2 separate regions of the Homo sapiens genome follow, and region 1 is linked to region 2. Evidence: fine-mapped expression QTL. A gene starts in region 2. The other region holds a variant in brackets. All regions are shown on one strand. Distances are from middle to middle. Region 1 overlaps LOC100506124 (a long non-coding RNA gene). Region 2 holds the start of TTC21B (tetratricopeptide repeat domain 21B).

The links. PIP is the estimated chance that this variant, and not a neighbour inherited with it, causes the effect.
Region 1: its variant is fine-mapped to the expression of TTC21B in whole blood (TOPMed, PIP 0.96).

Annotation. Positions count from the first base shown.
Region 1 is chr2:165,852,991-165,861,327 of GRCh38, forward strand. LOC100506124 (a long non-coding RNA gene) reads right to left here. Exons shown (of 4, transcript NR_045375.2): 3 at 5,225-5,414; 4 at 4,485-4,624. Among named protein-coding and RNA genes, the nearest start is that of GALNT3, 63 kb to the left of the region's middle. RefSeq lists an enhancer at 905-1,406. The variant G/A (reference allele first, on the strand shown) is at 4,595.
Region 2 is chr2:165,949,297-165,957,633 of GRCh38, forward strand. TTC21B (tetratricopeptide repeat domain 21B) reads right to left here and starts at 4,480. Exons shown (of 29, transcript NM_024753.5): 1 at 4,389-4,480; 2 at 299-428; 3 at 98-208. The coding sequence starts at 4,409. It overlaps LOC102724058 (a long non-coding RNA gene), which reads left to right and starts at 8,122. Exons shown (of 4, transcript NR_110598.1): 1 at 8,122-8,296. RefSeq lists a silencer at 4,331-4,730 and an enhancer at 4,495-5,244.

The DNA.
Region 1 (8,337 bases), 96 kb before region 2:
CACAGGATTTGTTCATTCTTTTTTATTCTCTTTTCTTCTTTTCAAAAAATCTGACTGGGCAATTTCAAAAGACTTGTCTTCAGGTTCTGAGATTTTTGCTTTTGTTTGATCTATTGTTGAAGCTCTTGTATGAATTTTTAAAATTTCATTCATTGAATTCTTTCTTTCCAGGACTTCTGGTTTGTTCTTTTTTATTATATCTATCTCTGGTGAATTTCTCACTCACATCCTGAATTGTTTTTCTGATTTCTTTCAATTATTTTCAGTGTTATCAATCATAGCTCACTATGAACTCAAGTTCCTACTCTCAAGCCTGCCTCAACCTGCTAAGTATTTAGGACTATAGCCTGCAGTGTGCTGCCATTCCTGGCTAACATTTTATTTTTATTTTTAGCACAGACAAGGTTTGCTATGTTGCCTGGATTGGTTTCTTGTGTTTTTACGTTGATAACTGTACCTCCGGTGTAACAGTCACTTCTTCCAATTTTTTTTTGAATTGACTTTTACAAGGGAAGGGATTTTTCCTGAAGATACATCTATGCTGTTGGTTGGGTAGGACACTAGCTTTGATTCTGGGTGCATGCAGTAGTGTAGTCTCCATATGATTTATTCAGCTGTAAACAGCATCAGCTGTGTCTGTGATTTCCTAAGTGGCTTAGGTTGTTGTTGTTAGTGGAGGCTATGGTGAGGTTTTGTTGAGGATGAGGATTACAGGTAGGCCAGTCATCAGATTCCAGTCGCGGCAGCAGTAGACCAAGCATGCCTGGCCTCGGGTTCCCAGTTGGCGTATGAAGTCACCAGTGTTAGTGGGTTGAAACAGGCCAATACTTAGGTCTACAGATGGCTGAAGTGCTGCAGTGGTAGTGGTGGGTCAGTCAGTCGAGTGGGTCCTTGGTCCCTGGATAGCATGTGTGATGTGGGTGATGGCAGTAGTAATGGCAAGACAATCCTTGGGCTCTGAAGTGACACACATTGGTGTTAGTGATATCTACAAGGAGCTGGGTATGTCAGTCCCTCATTCCCTAGGCAGTATGTGCAGTGGGTGCTGCTGTGGTGGTAGCAGCCCTAGGAGGACTGCACAGATGCCAGTGGTGGTGGACAGGGTGAGACAAGCCCTTAGACAGTGTTCTAGGGCACTGGAGTGGGGGGAGTGCCAGGCCAGGTAGGCCTGTTTCCAGGGACCCCAGGAATGTAATCAGGCCCTGGCTATGGTGGGCAGAGAGGAGTGACACTCAGGCTCCCAGTAGAGAGCTTGGGAGTCTGCTACAACAGGGGTGGTAGGCAGGGAAAGCCTGCCATTAGGGTATGTCCAAGTATGCTGCAGTCCTGCTGTTGGAGTAGAGGCAGAGTTTCTGACAGTAACTATAGCCACAGGCAGGCAGTTCTTAGGCTGTGTGGGAGGAGGGATGCTTTAATCCCCAGTGGCAGTGGCAGTGGTATATCAGCTGTAGTAGCAGCAGGGAAAACTAGTTCTCAGGAAATGTGCAAATGCGTGATGGGAGCCCTGCTGCTTGGTAGATGGAGTCGTGACCAGCTACATGTGTTTTGGCTTCTGGTGGCAGCAATAGTGGCTGTGGCTGGTGATGAGAGGGTCTGTCCTCAGAGTGTGATTGCAGTAGCCCTGCTGCTGGGGGCAGGGTCATTATATGTGGTAGCTGTCCCAGGTAGGTGGTTCTCTGGCCATAGAGAGTATGTGCTTTGGCTTTCTTTGTCCTGGGAGAGCCTCCCTAGGGTGCTGCACCACCGTTTACCTGGCATACAGGGCACTGTGTGTGCTGGAGTGCTGGGGACCCTGCCATTCTGCTGAGTCTGACTGGTGTTATTGCTGCTACGGCTCTCTGGGTGGACACAGAATGGTGTCAGTGGGGCTCCAGGGACGTGAAGGTGCAGGGGCTCTTGGGCCCCAAGGCGGGATGCAACCTCCAGTGGGTCCTAAGCTCTCAAAATGGCCCTATGGTGAATCTGCTTAGGACTTGGTGGGTGCGTTGGACCATTATGAACTCCCACTCTAGAGCAATGCCTTTGTGTCATCTCCAGGCAGGTCCCTATGCTATTCTGAGAGCCTGTGATGGGGTCTCCCATGGCTAGGGTATCAGGAGTCCATGGTGGGAATATGGAAAGGTGGGTATCTACTGCTTACCCTTTTCCTGAACTAGGGAGTCTTTATGAGCTCCCAGCTGATCCCAGCTGAGCTGACTGCCTCCCTTCCTGCTCCTTCCATGCCTCAGGTGCTTCCTGTTCCTTCTCTGTTGAATTCCAATATTCTCTCTTAGATGCTCTATTCGAAGTTTGATTATGCACTTGCTATTTTGGTTCTTGTCTGTGGAGGAGGTAAGTGTCAGATGCCTCCAGTCAGGCTTCTTGAAGTTCCTCTCACATAAGTCTTTATGTCCTTCATGACAATCTTACTATCCCAATGAGTGAATGACTATATGACAAAACAATCTTATTATATGTCGACATCACAGTATCACAGTGGATACTATGGTAGGCACCATGCCCCTATTCAAAATCAAGGCACTCATTTCCCCAGATGCCAGGAGTATTGGCTGCTAATGGCTCATAGCTAAACCCCTCTCCAAGCACTGGCCTTGGATTAAGACTATATTTCCTCCTGAAGAGAGAGTGGGGCAGCCTGTGTACAATGCAGGACCAGGACTAGGGTGAAAAACTGGCCTTGAGTGCTAAATTTAAGCAGGAGCCAAAAACTCAGTAATCAAACAATATTTTAATGTAATATTTTAAAAATAAAAAATGCAAAGGTTCTGTAATTATCAAAATATCACAATTTTAAATAAAGATATAATCAATATGACTGATTTTTCTCTTTGCTTGAGGCTCCAATATGGCTCCCCAAAACACTCTCTATTTTAAAGCATTATTTAAAAAATACTAACCAATGCAAAAGTTCACCCTGAACAAAATACTGAAATTTTTAAATAAAGGCTGACTTTTGCATTAATTTAGGTTTAAAAAATAATAATACATTAAAATATTATTTATCTTGGCTACTGAGCTTTTTGACGCCCTCTAAATTTTGTCCTCAAGGCAAGCATCTCACTCTTCTTATGTAGTCCCAATCCTGGCAGATTGACTCAGGGGAAACCAATGTCTGTCTCCTTTGCCTTAAAGGGAGGCCATGGGAGGCCATCCCATCAACACAGTCCCTTGGGGATCAGCTGAAGCCTTCCTTGTGACTTCATTGCAGTCCAATCCTGCTTTTCTCCCTCCCTTACCAGCATTATTCCTAAGAGTATCCTGCAGGTGAGTCTCTGAGTCTCTTTCCTCTAAGACCTCCCCAGAGAAGAGAGGTGAAAACTGAAGTTCACAGAAGGTGAGGAACTTGCCCAAGCTCTCAGAGCTCCTATGAGATGAAAACCCAGGTGAGACCAGGCACAGTGGCTCATGAGGGTAATCCGAGAACTGGGAGGCTGAGATGGGAGGACTGTTGGAGCCCAGGAGTTCAAGATCAGCCTGGGCAACATAGTGAGACTCTATCTCTTCAAGCAATAAAAAAATTAGCTGGGTGTGGTGGGTGCACGCCTGTAGTCCCAGCTACTTGTGGGGCTGAGGTATGGGGATCACTTGAGCCTGGGAGGTCGAGGCTGCAGTGAGCCATGATCACGCCACTGCACCCCACCCTGGGTGACAGAGCAAGACCCTGTCTAAAACAAACAAACAAACAAACAAAAAACAAATCCCAGTCAAGTTAGTATGACTTTAAAGCCAGTGCTTCTCATTATAACATTCTATAGGCTGGGGCCAGAATTTGTGGCTACAGTCTAATAAGTCAAAGGTAAAACAGAGATACCAGCAATCCCTATGCACTCTCCTAATTGAATTTCCTAATTGCAGACTAGAAATCAGGTTCTCTGATTTCTAGGAAGTGGGCCTCCGATTATATCAGACCCTGTAGTCAGCAGAATAATGCCCGCATCCCCACTGAAGATGTCCACATCCTAATCCCTAAAACCTGTGAATGTGTTAACTTACATGGCAAAAGGAACTTTGCAGATGTGATTAAGTTAGGGATCTTGAGCATATGCTGCATTATCCATGTAGGCCCAAATATAATCACAAGGGTCCTTATTAGGGAGAGAGGGAGGCAGGAAAGTTAGAGAAGGAAACATGATGACAGAAGTAGAGGTCACAGTGATGTGATCATGAGACAAAGAATGCAGGCAGGCCTTAGAAGCCAGAAAAGTCAAGGAACAGAGCCTTCCCTACAGCTTGCAGAAGGAAGGGAGCTCTGTTGCCCCTTGGTCTTAGCTCTAAGACCCATTTTGAACATCTGACCTCCAGAAGTGTAAGAAAATAAATTTGTGATGTTTGAAGCCTCAAGGTTTGTGGTAATTTTTTATAGCAGCAATAGGAAAGTAAAAGACCCCTAAAGCAGTGTTTCAGCCCTGGCATTATGGCATCACCCATGTGGCTCTGAGATGTATTGGATCCCTAACAGAAAACAGGTAGGACCACCAGAACAATTTAATGAAGACTTCTCAGTTGTATTATATTTTTAAAAATTTAAAATGAACTTGTATATGTGGAAGGATTGATGATCTGTACTGACTCCAGATGGTTATGTTCTCCTGAT[G/A]ACAGATGGAAGTCCAGGAGGCGGGGCCATCTACAGGAAAGCAGGAGAGAAATGATTGATATAGGAAGCCAGTACAATCCAGGAACTCTTTATACAAGCACAATTTTTACTTTTCTGATTCTCCGGTAGTATTTTTTGAATTATGGAAGGAGATGAACATTCCTATTTTTTTAATATGGAACTAGCTGTACTGTTGTTTCTCTTTCCTTGCTGTGCTAGAAGAGTCTGGAGTTTAAGCTCTTCTTGTATTTGAGCAAAAGTTAATGTTTTTAAATTCTTTTTGTTGATTAGACATTTGGGTCTGATGGATCACTAAGGTTTATTATAAAAAAGTTTGAAGTTCAAGGATATTTCTTCTTTTTTACATTAGTTGTAAGGAAAAGGACAAAATGCCTTGGAGAGAAGCCAGAACAAGAGAATTTGGAGCATCAACAAAATATGTTGAACATAAACAAGAGAGTAGAGTTTCACTCTAGGCAAGAAAGTGGTTCTCCCAGGGGGATGAACTAGAAAAAGGGAGAGGAAAGTATCATGTGTATATGAGTAGGAAGATGAAGGAAACAGGGAAGGGGGAGGTAGTTATAGTTAAGCAGATCGGATCTTAAGCAACTTTGCCAATGATATTCTTACCCCAAGTGTATGCCAGCAAGATATGGTTCTACTGCTGGTGACCTCATAGAAGCAGAGTCATCACTGGAGAAAGACATAGCTCTCATCCTGATGGGCATCTCCTGCCCCTGAGGCCTCAGTTAGCTGCACTTGCCTTCTGCATCTCCTGGGGATTTCACTCCATCAGTTAGCATCTTGTTTACTGCCTTCCCTAAAGAAGTGATATGTATTAATATTAGTCTGTTATAACATCGCTATAAAGATACCAAAGACTGGGTAATTTATAGTGAAAAGAGGTTTAATTCACTGAAAGTTCTACATGGCCAGGGGGCCTTCAAAATTTACAATAATGGTGGAAGGCAAAGGGTAAGCAAGCTACCTCCTTCACAAGGCAGCAGGAGAGACAGCAAGAAAGCAGGGGAAATGCCAGACACTTATCAAACAACCAGATATTGTGAGAACTCCCTCACTATCACAAGAACAGCCTGGGAGAAACCACCCCATGATTCAATCACCTCCCAACAGGTCCCTCCCTTGATATGTGGGGATTATAATTTGAGATGAGATTTGGGTGGGGACACAGAGCCAAACCATATCATGATGCCTATCCATTTCTTTGAATTTTGTTTGATTCCTGACTGACTTATTCTTACCTCACAATGCCCCAGGATATATGTGAGCCCAAGAAAATGGGATTAAAGTCAGAGAGACTTAGTAGCGTGGCCTAATGAAAAATCCTTGGGGCTAACTGGAGCCAAACTGATTTGATACCTTCCCAGCATCTCTCCATCTTTTACATGAGCTGGGACCATGGTTAATGGCTCTTTTTATATAATAATTTAAAAATGTGTAAATATAAGGGCCACCTAGCACATAAAGAAGGAATATAAAGGTCAAGGGTCTTGTTGTTTATCAACATGGTCTTTGAGAATTGCTTATACTCAATTTTGATGAGCCTGGCTCTTTATGGCTCCTTCTTCCGTGATTTGGAAAAGTGCAAGCCTGGGCAGCTGTCAACTCATTGATACTCTCAGCAGCACAGTTCCGACTGAACTCTTAGTTTAGTCATGGTGATATCTAGTGGTTGTACCACTAGGGTGGTACAGCCCTTGGTACTGTCCTGGTTTGGGTTGCTTGGACATTTGGAGAAATAAAACAGATGGGAGAATTATGATTTTGAACAAATAATTTACCATGTTGCAAATTTCTTTATCAGTGAAAGTCCAGTAATTTTCTACATTGTTTAACTAAAAGTTGTGGGTTTTTAAATGTAGGTGTTCAACTAAGCTAGCACTTGAGTGAATTAAAAAAAAAATTGGACTAAATACTGTGGAGGGAGAAGTGCAAAAGGATCAGATAACATGTTGTAGTGGAGCCTTCAGGCTGTCTGCCCAGCAACCTTTTTATCCATAGATGTGGGCCTGGGTAACCTGTGTCACCTGGTGGCCTCCTTCCTGGCCATATTGGTGGTGGGAGTTGGGGACTAAGAAACTACACATCATTCTCTGCATGTGGCCAAACTTACAACATGGGAGTAGTGAAACGTCTGTGAGAAGTGAGAACTAGTGTATTAGCCCATTTTCATGCTGCTAATAAAGATACCCAAGATTGGATAATTTATAAAGAAAAAGAGGTTTCATGGACTCACAGTTCCACATGGCTGGGGAGGCCTCAAAATCATGGTGGAAGCTAAGGAGGAGCAAGTCATGTCTTACATGGATGGCAGCAGGCAAACAGAGCTTGCACAGGGAAACTCCCCCTTATAAAACCATCAGATCTTGTAAGAGGTATTCACTATCATGAGAACAGCATGGAAAACACCTGCCCCCATGATTCAATTACCTCCCATGGGGTCCCTCCCACAACACGTGGGAATTCAAGATGATATTTGGGTGGGGACACAGCCAAACCATATCACTCTGCCCCTTGCCCCTCCTAAATCTCATGTCCTTACATGTCAAAACCAATCATGCCTTCCCAACAGTCCCCCAAAGTCTTAACTCATTTCAGCACTAACTCTTTTAAAAGTCTACAGTCCAAAGTCTCACCTGAGACAAGGCAAGTCCCTTCTGCCTATGAGCCTGTAAAATTGAGAGCAAGTTACTTGCTTGCTAGATACAATGGAGATACAGGCATTGGGTAAATACAGCCATTCCAAATGGGAGAAATTGGGTAAAACGAAGGAGCTACAGGCCCCATGCAAGTCCAAAATCCAGCAGGGCAGTTAAATCTTAAAGCTCCAAAATAATCTGCTTTGACTCCTTATCTCACATCCAGGTTATGCTGATGCAAGAAATGGGTTCCCATGGTCTTGGGCAGCTCTGCCAGTGTGGCTTTGCAGGGTACAGCCTCCTTTCTGGCTGCTTTCATGGGCTGGCAACGAGTGCCTGTGACTTTTTCAGGTGCACAGTGCAAGCTGTCAGTGGATCTTCCATTCTGGGGTCTGGAAGATAGAGACCCTTTTCTCACAGCTCCACTAGGCAGCACCCTAGTGGGGACTCTGTGTGGGGGCTTCTACCTCACATTTGCCTTCCACACTACCCTAGCAGAGGTTCTCCGTGAGGTTTGTCCCTGAAGCAAAACTTCTTCCTGGACATCCAGGCATTTCCATACATCCTCTGAAATCTAGGTGGAGGTTCCCAAATCCCAATTCTTGACTTCTGTGCCCTCACAGGCTCAACACCACGTGAAAGCTGCCAAGGCTTGGAGCTTGCACCCTCTGAAGCCACAACCTGAGCTCTAGCTTGGCCCCTTGTAGTCATGGCTGGAGTGGCTGGGACACAGGGCGCTAAGTCCTTAGACTGCACACAGCAGAGGGACACTGGGCCCAGCCAATGAAACCATTTTTCCCTCCTAGGCTTCCAGGCCTGTGATGGGAGGGGCTACCTTGAAGACTACTGACATTCGCTGGAGACATTTTCCCCATTGTCTTGGCAATGATTCACATTCAGCTCCTCGTTACTTATGCAAACTTCTGCAGCCAGCTTAAATTTCTCCTCAGAAAATGGAATTTTCTTCCCTATCACCTTGTCAGGCTGCAAATTTCTGAACTTTTATGCTCTGATTTCTTTATAAAACTGAATGCCTTTAACAGCACCCAAGTCACCTCTTGAATGCTTTGCTGCTTAGAAATT
Region 2 (8,337 bases):
ATATAGTGTGATCAGACTGAATGACTTGGTAACTGAGAAAAATAAAAATAAACTGAATAGGAAAAAATGTCCTAAGCATTGCATTTAAATATCATACCTGGATTAGGACTCATTTTATGGGCATATATCAGTGCAAGTAGAGAACAAAGTGATACATCTTGTTTATTTTTAATAGCCTCAAATTCTCGAAGAGCTTCTTGAGTTTTACCTGAAAATCAAGATTATGATATGAAAAACTGTTCTTAGTGCAAAGCAAGAATTTAAAACTGATGGAACATGTTTAATGATTAACACGTACCTTCCATTAATGTGCCATAGGCATGATAAAACCTGAAGACTGGATCACTTCCATACCTCTTAATTCCTTCACTGGCAACCAGTAATACATGATGGAAATATCTCTCTTGACAATAGTAATTAATCAAAGTCTAAATGGAAATAATGAAAAAATGTTATAAAGGAATTCTGGTGCTCTGAAATACTCTAAGAAGCAGATAATAATCTAACATCTAGAATAATGTAAAATTCAGGCAATGTGACTTTTTTCTTCCAAGTTTCTTAAAATACTATTAATGGCTAGAACTCAATGCTAAGGATTGCAGAACTGAATGATCATAAAATTACTGAAATAATTCAATGTTTTCTAATAATTTAAATTATTTTTCCTAAGTTTTTGTTAACAGCACCGAAATGAGGCTGCTTTCACCTTTTTTCCTTTGCCCACATTTTCTTGAACGTTTTAGAAAACAGAAAGGCAGACAATAAACAGGAACTAAAAAAAAAAAAAAAAAGACAAGAGGCTTCCATTGCCAGACCATAGGTTTCTTTAAAAAAAAAAATCTTCTTTTTAAAATATCCAGTATTTTATTACAGCATTACAAAGTAATGACAAATTTAATTCTTCAACATATCATCAAATGTTATCTTACTCGGCTTTGAGTTCTGCGACAAATAAATTGTCAGTTAAGAATAAATAAACTATTTTTCAATGAAAATCGTTGTCTTTAAGCTTTTTCCAAAGTTATATTATTTCCATATACAAGACAAAACTACTATCAGGACCTACTAACTTCTGAATAAAAATGGGCCTGTGCTGTCTACCATTTTTCCTACGATTATGTCTAAGGCTTGGTTGCTAACCTCATCAAAGACAGAAACCACACTTTCCCACCATCACTAGGATACACCTGATTCACCAGAAAGCAGTTTGGGCCACCCCATACCTACCTACCTGGACTCTACAGCTTGTTCAGTAGCAGTGAGAAATACAGGTGACTAAGTGACAGGATTGAAATCTAAGGGTATCTAGACAGCTCTGGTTTGTTTGTTTTGTTTTGTTTTGGAGATTCTGTCACTCAGGCTGGAGTGCAGTGGCGCAATCTCTGCTCACTGCAATCTCTGCCCCCTAGGTTTAAGCGATTCTCCTGCCTCAGCCTCCTGATCTGGGACTATAGGCACACCCCACCGCACCTGGCTAATTTTTGTATTTTTAAGTAGAGATGGGGCTCCCCATGTTGGCCAGGCTGGTCTTGAACTCTTGACTTCAAGTGATCCACCCGCCTGGGCCTCCCAAAGTGCTGAGATTACAGGCGTGAGCCACCACGCCCGTCCGACAGCTCTGTTTTATATAGTCTCTTGCTTCTGGAGGGCTATAGTCCATGTACTTCTCTAGATCAGTTAGGCGACTGTTCTCTGTAATTTTACTCTGCCTCCCTCCTTGTGATCACTGCTCCCTAACCTCCTTTTTAGCCATGTTTCTTAAAAGTGTGCTCCATACCCCATCTCCAGACCCCCACAACACATTTCAGTGAAACACAGTTTTCCTCCAATGCTCCATTCCCTAAAGTTGCAGAATGACTTCTTACTTTGCCACAACTAAGGACACGTTTAATACCTTACTTGACTTCTGCACACTATCACTAAGCATCTATAATCCTCCTGAAAGGCAGTGGCATAGCACCATAAAAAGGACGCGAATTTAAAGGCAAAAAGAATCTCTGGTCCTTCTTACAACGCCTCAGTCTGCTCATTTATAAAATGCTGTTAGTAATGCAAATGTACAGGTCACTGTGAGAATTAATTAAGATATCATAGTATAAGAGTTCTATTCTGAAAAAAATAAGTTCCTCTGCATCCCATATGTTAATGGAATAAAAAAAAAATGTGTCCTGCGCCAAGACCTCTTGTCTATGTTCCAGATTCATATTTCCATTTTCCACCTGCTACCCTGCTACTCATGAATCCTCCCTTCCTATTTGCCCAGTCTCTCTAAGTCTAACCACTTAGTAGGTTCTTCTATTTCTCCAGTCTACCTCCCACTAAACATACCTAATGCTACTGCCTTGGTTCAGGTTAGGTTATTCAATCCAAAACATTTACTGACTGCCTACTAGTACCCAGGCACTGGGCTAGCTACTATGAATAGAAAAATGAGTAAGACATGGTTCCTGTCCCCCCGGAAAACCTACATTTTTCAGATGAGACTGTAATCTGAAGACTAACTGAAATATAATGTAGTAAATGTAAGAAAAGAGCTTATAAACTCCTTTGGGAATGTGGGATAGCAACATTTTGACAGCATTGAAAACTGAATGTGGTGTGAGGGGAGGATGGATGACTAAAATCAAGGGAAAGATTATTGGGGAGGATTTCAGAGCTGACTCTTGAATTGCAAACCCCTCATTCTCCCTCCACACACGTACACGCTCTTCCTATTTCCTTTTCATGATTCTTGAGGAAGGTACAGGAGTTAGGAAGAGGAACTGCAACAACACAGATAACAAGTCATCAATGGTACATTGGGATGGCAGTGGTGATGAAGATGACTAAAAGCCACTCCATACTCTAGAGCAGGGTTTGGCAAACCACACTCTGTGGGCCATATCTGGCTGGCTGGCTGTACAGCCAGTGAACTAAGAATGGTTTTTATATTTTCCAGCTGTCAAGGAAAAAAAAGAAATATTTCATAACATGAAAATTACATGAAAGTCAAATTTCAGTGTTCATAAATAAAGTTTTATTGAAACACAGCCATGCTCATTTAAGTATTGTCTATGGCTGTTTTGAACAAGCCAATTAGATGTGATAGACCATACGGTCCATAAAGTCTAAAATGTGTACTATCTGGCCCTTTGTTGAGAAAGTTTGCTATTCTCTGCTCTGGAGGCTTAAGTGAGACAGAGAGTATTGGATGATGAGGTTGGAGACGAAGGTGGGGTGAAAAGCCTCATATTAAGTACTTGGACTTGAACCTCAAGTCTAAGTAATGAGGAGGCCCATTTTTACATTTTACATTAAAGTGTTTTTATTAAAATGTTCATTTGGGTGGCAGTGCAAATAATACATTTAAGGGAATAAAAAAATGTAAGGATATAGGGGGATAGCTAGAACAGAGGATAATGTAAAACTTCAGGCAGAAAAACAAGACATTTCAGCATTCCCTAACCTCCTACATCGCCAAATTGTCCTCCATCCACTTATCACCATCTCACAGGATACACATTTCATTTACCTACTTGTTGTCTGACTCCTCCTACTCAAATGTAAGCTCCAAGATTGGAAGAGTTTTTCTTGGTTTTATTATTTCAGTGCTTAGAACAGTGCTAGACACATAGGAGGCATTCAGTAAATATTTGTTGAGTCAACTGAATTAGGGTTTTTCCCCAGCATTAATTAGCCTGTAAAATCTGAGAAGGCAGAAACTGTTCAGTTTTGCTCACTGCTATCTCCAGCTTCTAATGGACATACAGTAACCCTTCATAAATATTTGCTGAACGAGTGATTCAGTGAACAAATGAATAGAGAAGACCAACATCCGAAAAGTTATTTTATTTTCAAGCCTCATGTCTTTAACTGTTTTATATCAGCCTTTCTTAAGTTGACCGTCATTAATATTTGCTGAATGAATGAGTCAGTGATAAACAGAGAAGACCATCACCCTAAAATAACGACCCCTCCACTTTTAAGTCTTACGTCTTTAATGGGTTTCATATAATCTTTCTGCGCTCTTTTTACTGTCCAGTGTGGGAGCTGACACTAGTTTGCCTTAAGTCCTTAAAAATCGCACCCGGAGGCGCAGTGTCATAGGTAACCCAAGCTTTCCTAGTAAACATGATACAAAAGTAAACACAACCAACAGCATGGGGACCAGCAATTCAGAAACACCGAGCGGGCGGGCTGCCCAGACCTGGGCTTCCCCAGCAGGGCCCGCGGAGACCGGCCGTGAGCAGAGGCTGCAGGCCCACCCCGCAACCCGAGCAGCCGGGGCACCGCAGGGAAACAGCGGCCTAGCGAAGCCACCCGAGCTCCCTCCGCGCCCCCGGGCCAAAAGGCCGCAAAGGAACTCCGCCCGCCCGCCCGCTCACCCGCTCACCCGCTCACCCGCTCACCTTCAATTCCTGCGAGTCCATGGCTGCCCCGAGGCCGGGCCGCGGGGCTCTGGGGATTGTCTCGCCGCAGCCTAAAGGAAGACGCAGAATTCAGCTCCCCTAGCCTCCCGGAGCGCTCTAGCGCCCCGGGCCCCAGCGGGAGGGGCGGGGTCGCGCCGCGATTGGCTGTCGGAGGGAGAGGCGGGCCTGTGTGGCGGGGATCGTGCTGTAATGGAGCAGGGGCGGCGGGGACCCGGAGGTGAGGGCTGCGAGGGCCGCCCGGGAGGGTCCGGGCTGGGAAAAGGGCCTCCGCCGGAGAGTGCAGCTGGAAAAGGAGGTCACACTGGGAAACGGCTGTCTGAGGACAGTGGGTGGGCGGGCCGAGGAAATGGAATTCAGGAATAAAGGAAACGGAGTATGAAGAAGGGGAAGTCTGTTTCCTGTCACTGGTTGTAAAGGAAGACACCATTTTCTGCACGTTTGTCTGGAGGCGGATTCCCGCAGTGCGGCTCTCAGCAAGGCTCTGCCGGCGCGGGAAAAAGCGGTCAACTTTCACGTGGGCAAGTTGTTTTACGGCCACAAGGTGGCGCAGAAAAAAAAAATCACACGTTCTTAACAGAAATACGGTGCGCTTGGGCCCGTCTTTGCAGGCGTTGCTGCAATCTTTGTTAGAATGTGTGTTCAATTAGCCCTTTTTTACCAGCCCCGATAATAAGAGGGACAAATAAATTAAACTTCCAGAAAATTAGTGTCTTGTTTTCAATGATACTACTGATTTTAAACTGAGAATAAAATGAATCCCAATGCAAATTTTTATGTTTGCACCCCATTAGGCAACTCAATCAGTCACACATAGATTTCTTAAGTCCAGGAAATTAAATGGAAATATAATAGACTAAGATTTTCTATTTCTGCTTAAATAAATATTTAAAATAGTGCATAAGGTCTGAGATTTAAGTGATCTTTGCAGAATCTTTCACGTGGATTCCAAATTTTGATCCTAGTGTTAATTATCTTACTTTAGTTGACATGATACGTAGTTGCCTTTTCCAGATTTTAAGTTTCTTAAGGAGTTTATAAACATTGACTTTTTCCCCATGCCAATAGGTTATGTAAGGACAGTCTTGAGAAAAACGGTAGCTACCATCCTAGGCTTTAAGGTGAAGCAATATTTCTCACCGGTTTCTCTTTAAAGGAATTCACCACGTATTTTCACGAGCAACTTTTTTTTCTTTCCAATATTTATAGTCCAGCTAAATGTCTGTGGTGATGAACAACTGGTGATATCTCTTTGATTTTCAAAGCTGCGGATTAATCCGCACTTGGTATACAGCAAAGAATACCACAGGACCAGGGTGCTCAATGAAGTGTATAATCTTGAACTGTAAACCTTTGGTTATAAGAGAAAAGTTCATCTGTAAGGAAATATCTCAGGATCATGGTTAACAGAACAGATGATCAACCTACCTTTTGGAGATCTTGAAAGTCATATTAATTTAGCCTCGTATTCTCTTCACTGAATTCTGTTCTAAGGTTGAATTATTTAGCACAAAACACCAAGCCTGATGTTTCATAAATGTTTGTTGGATTAAAAGTACTCTGAGATTTGCTTTGACACTCACGGTGACTTGGTGTGCCCTGTGCCCTTACTAGATCTCATGTAAGAAATTTATTTTGGATCTCAGGCCAGGAAAAACTCTTGTCTTTCCTGAAAAATCGATGTGTTCCTTAGCAGTAACATTTTTATCGGCTCACTTTTACTAGCTACAAACTTTTGAGTCTGATATCCATGACCCTTCACCTCATCGTCTTTTCAAGCCTTATCTTCTACCTCCCCTTCAAGGAGCCTTTATTCCGCTCAGTGGGACAAATATTCCTTCTTCTGGTAATGCTTTCCCCTACTTTGTTTTGAGCTCTTTCTTCACCTGAGAAAATCTCCTTCTTCTGAGTTCATTTCAAATTTCATGAAGTCTTTAAGGATCACCATAACTGGATGGGTATAAAAATATCACAGTGTAGTGGCAAGAATACCCTCTTCTGCATCTGAGGTGGAGCTCCTATTACGCTAGCTACTTTTGTGACTTGGGGAAGTAATTTCCCTAAGCCTCATTTTCCTTATTTACTAAAGAAACTAAATGCCTTACAGACATATTAAAACTTCCTGACACATAATAGGCATTGTATAACCAATAGTTTCCATTAAACACGTAGTGCTCTATAGCAGTGGTCCCCAATCATTTTGGCACCAGGGACCAGTTTGGTGGAAGACAATTCACAGAAGATAAATTTTCCATGGACAGGGGTAGGGGAGATGGTTTCGGGTTGAAACTATTCCATCTCAGATCATCAGATTCTTATCTAAGGAGCATACAGCCTAGATCCTTCACATGCACAGTTTATAATGGGGTTTGCATTCGTATGAGAATCTAATGCCTCGCTGATCTGACAAGGAGGTGGAGCTTGGGGTAACGCTCCCTTTCCTGCCCCGCAGCTCACCTCCTGCTGTGTACCCCGTCCTGCTGTATACCCCATCCTGCTGTGTAGCACTGATTTGCAGTCCTCAGATTGGGGACCCCTGCTCTATAAGACTTATTACACTTGCATAGTCCTTGTATTACTAGTTATAGTGCATTTTTGTTTAATGTTCTCTACCAGATGATGAGCACTATAAAGCTAGATAATATAATGTAGCAGTTAACATCTTCGTCTCCAGAAATACGTCATTTTCGTTCAGACCTTAATGTGTCCGGAATTGGTGGGTTCTTGGTCTTGCTGACTTCAAGAATAAAGCCGCGGACCCTCGCGGTGAGTGTTACAGTTCATAAACGCACGCAGACCCAAAGAGTGAGCAGCAACAAGATTTATTGCAAACAGCAAAAGAACAAACCTTCCACAGAGTGGAAGAGGACCCCAGTAGAGTGCCCCTGCTAGCTCAGGTGGCCTGCATTTATTCCCTTATCCGGCCCCACCCACATCCTACTGATTGGTCTGCTTTACAGAGAGCTAATTGGGCTGTTTTACAGAGAGCTGATTGGTCCGTTTTGACAGGATGCTGATTGGTGTGTTTACAAACCTTGAGCTAGACACAGAGTGCTGACTGGTAAATTTACAATCCTTTAGCTAGACACAAAAGTTCTTCAAGTCCCCACCAGATTAGCTAGACACAGAGCACTGATTGGTACCTTTACAAACCTTGAGCAAGACACAGGGTGCTGACTGGTGCGTTTACAAACCTTCAGCTAGACACAGAGTGCTGACTGGTGCATTTACAAACCTTTAGCTAGACATAAAAGTTCTCCAAGTCCCCACCTGACTCAGGAGCCCAGCTGGCTTCACCTAGCGGTTCCCGGCCCGCCGAGACTGCAGCGGAGCTGCCCACCAGTCCCGCGCCACGCGCCCGCACTCCTCAGCCTTTGGGCAGTGGATGGGACCGGGCGCCGTGGAGCAGGGGGCGGCGCCCTTCGAGGAGGCTCGGGCTGGGCACGAGTCCACCGGGAGAGGGGAGGGCTCGCGCATGGCATGACGGGCTGCAGGTCCCGAGCCCTGCCGCGCGGGAGGCGGCTGAGGCCCCGTGAGAATTCGAGCGCCGCAGGGGCAGGCTGGCAGTGCTGGGGGACCCGGTGCACTCTCCGCAGCTGCTGGCTCGGGTGCTAAGCCCCTCACTGCCTCGGGCCAGCGGTGCCGACCCGCCGCTCCAAGTGCGGGGCGGGCGGAGCCCGCGCCCACCTGGAACTCGCGCGGGCCCGCCAGCGCCAACCGCAGCCGCGGTTCCCGCCCGCGCCTCTCCCTCCACACCTCCCCGCAAGCAGAGGGAGCCGGCTCCGGCCTTGGCCAGCCCAGAGACAGGCTCCCACAGTGCAGCGGCGGGCTGAAGGGCTCCTCAAGCACTGCCAGAGTGGACACCGAGGCCGAGGAGACGCCAAGAGCGAGTGAGTGCTGCTAGCAGGTTGTCACCTCTCATTAATACTAC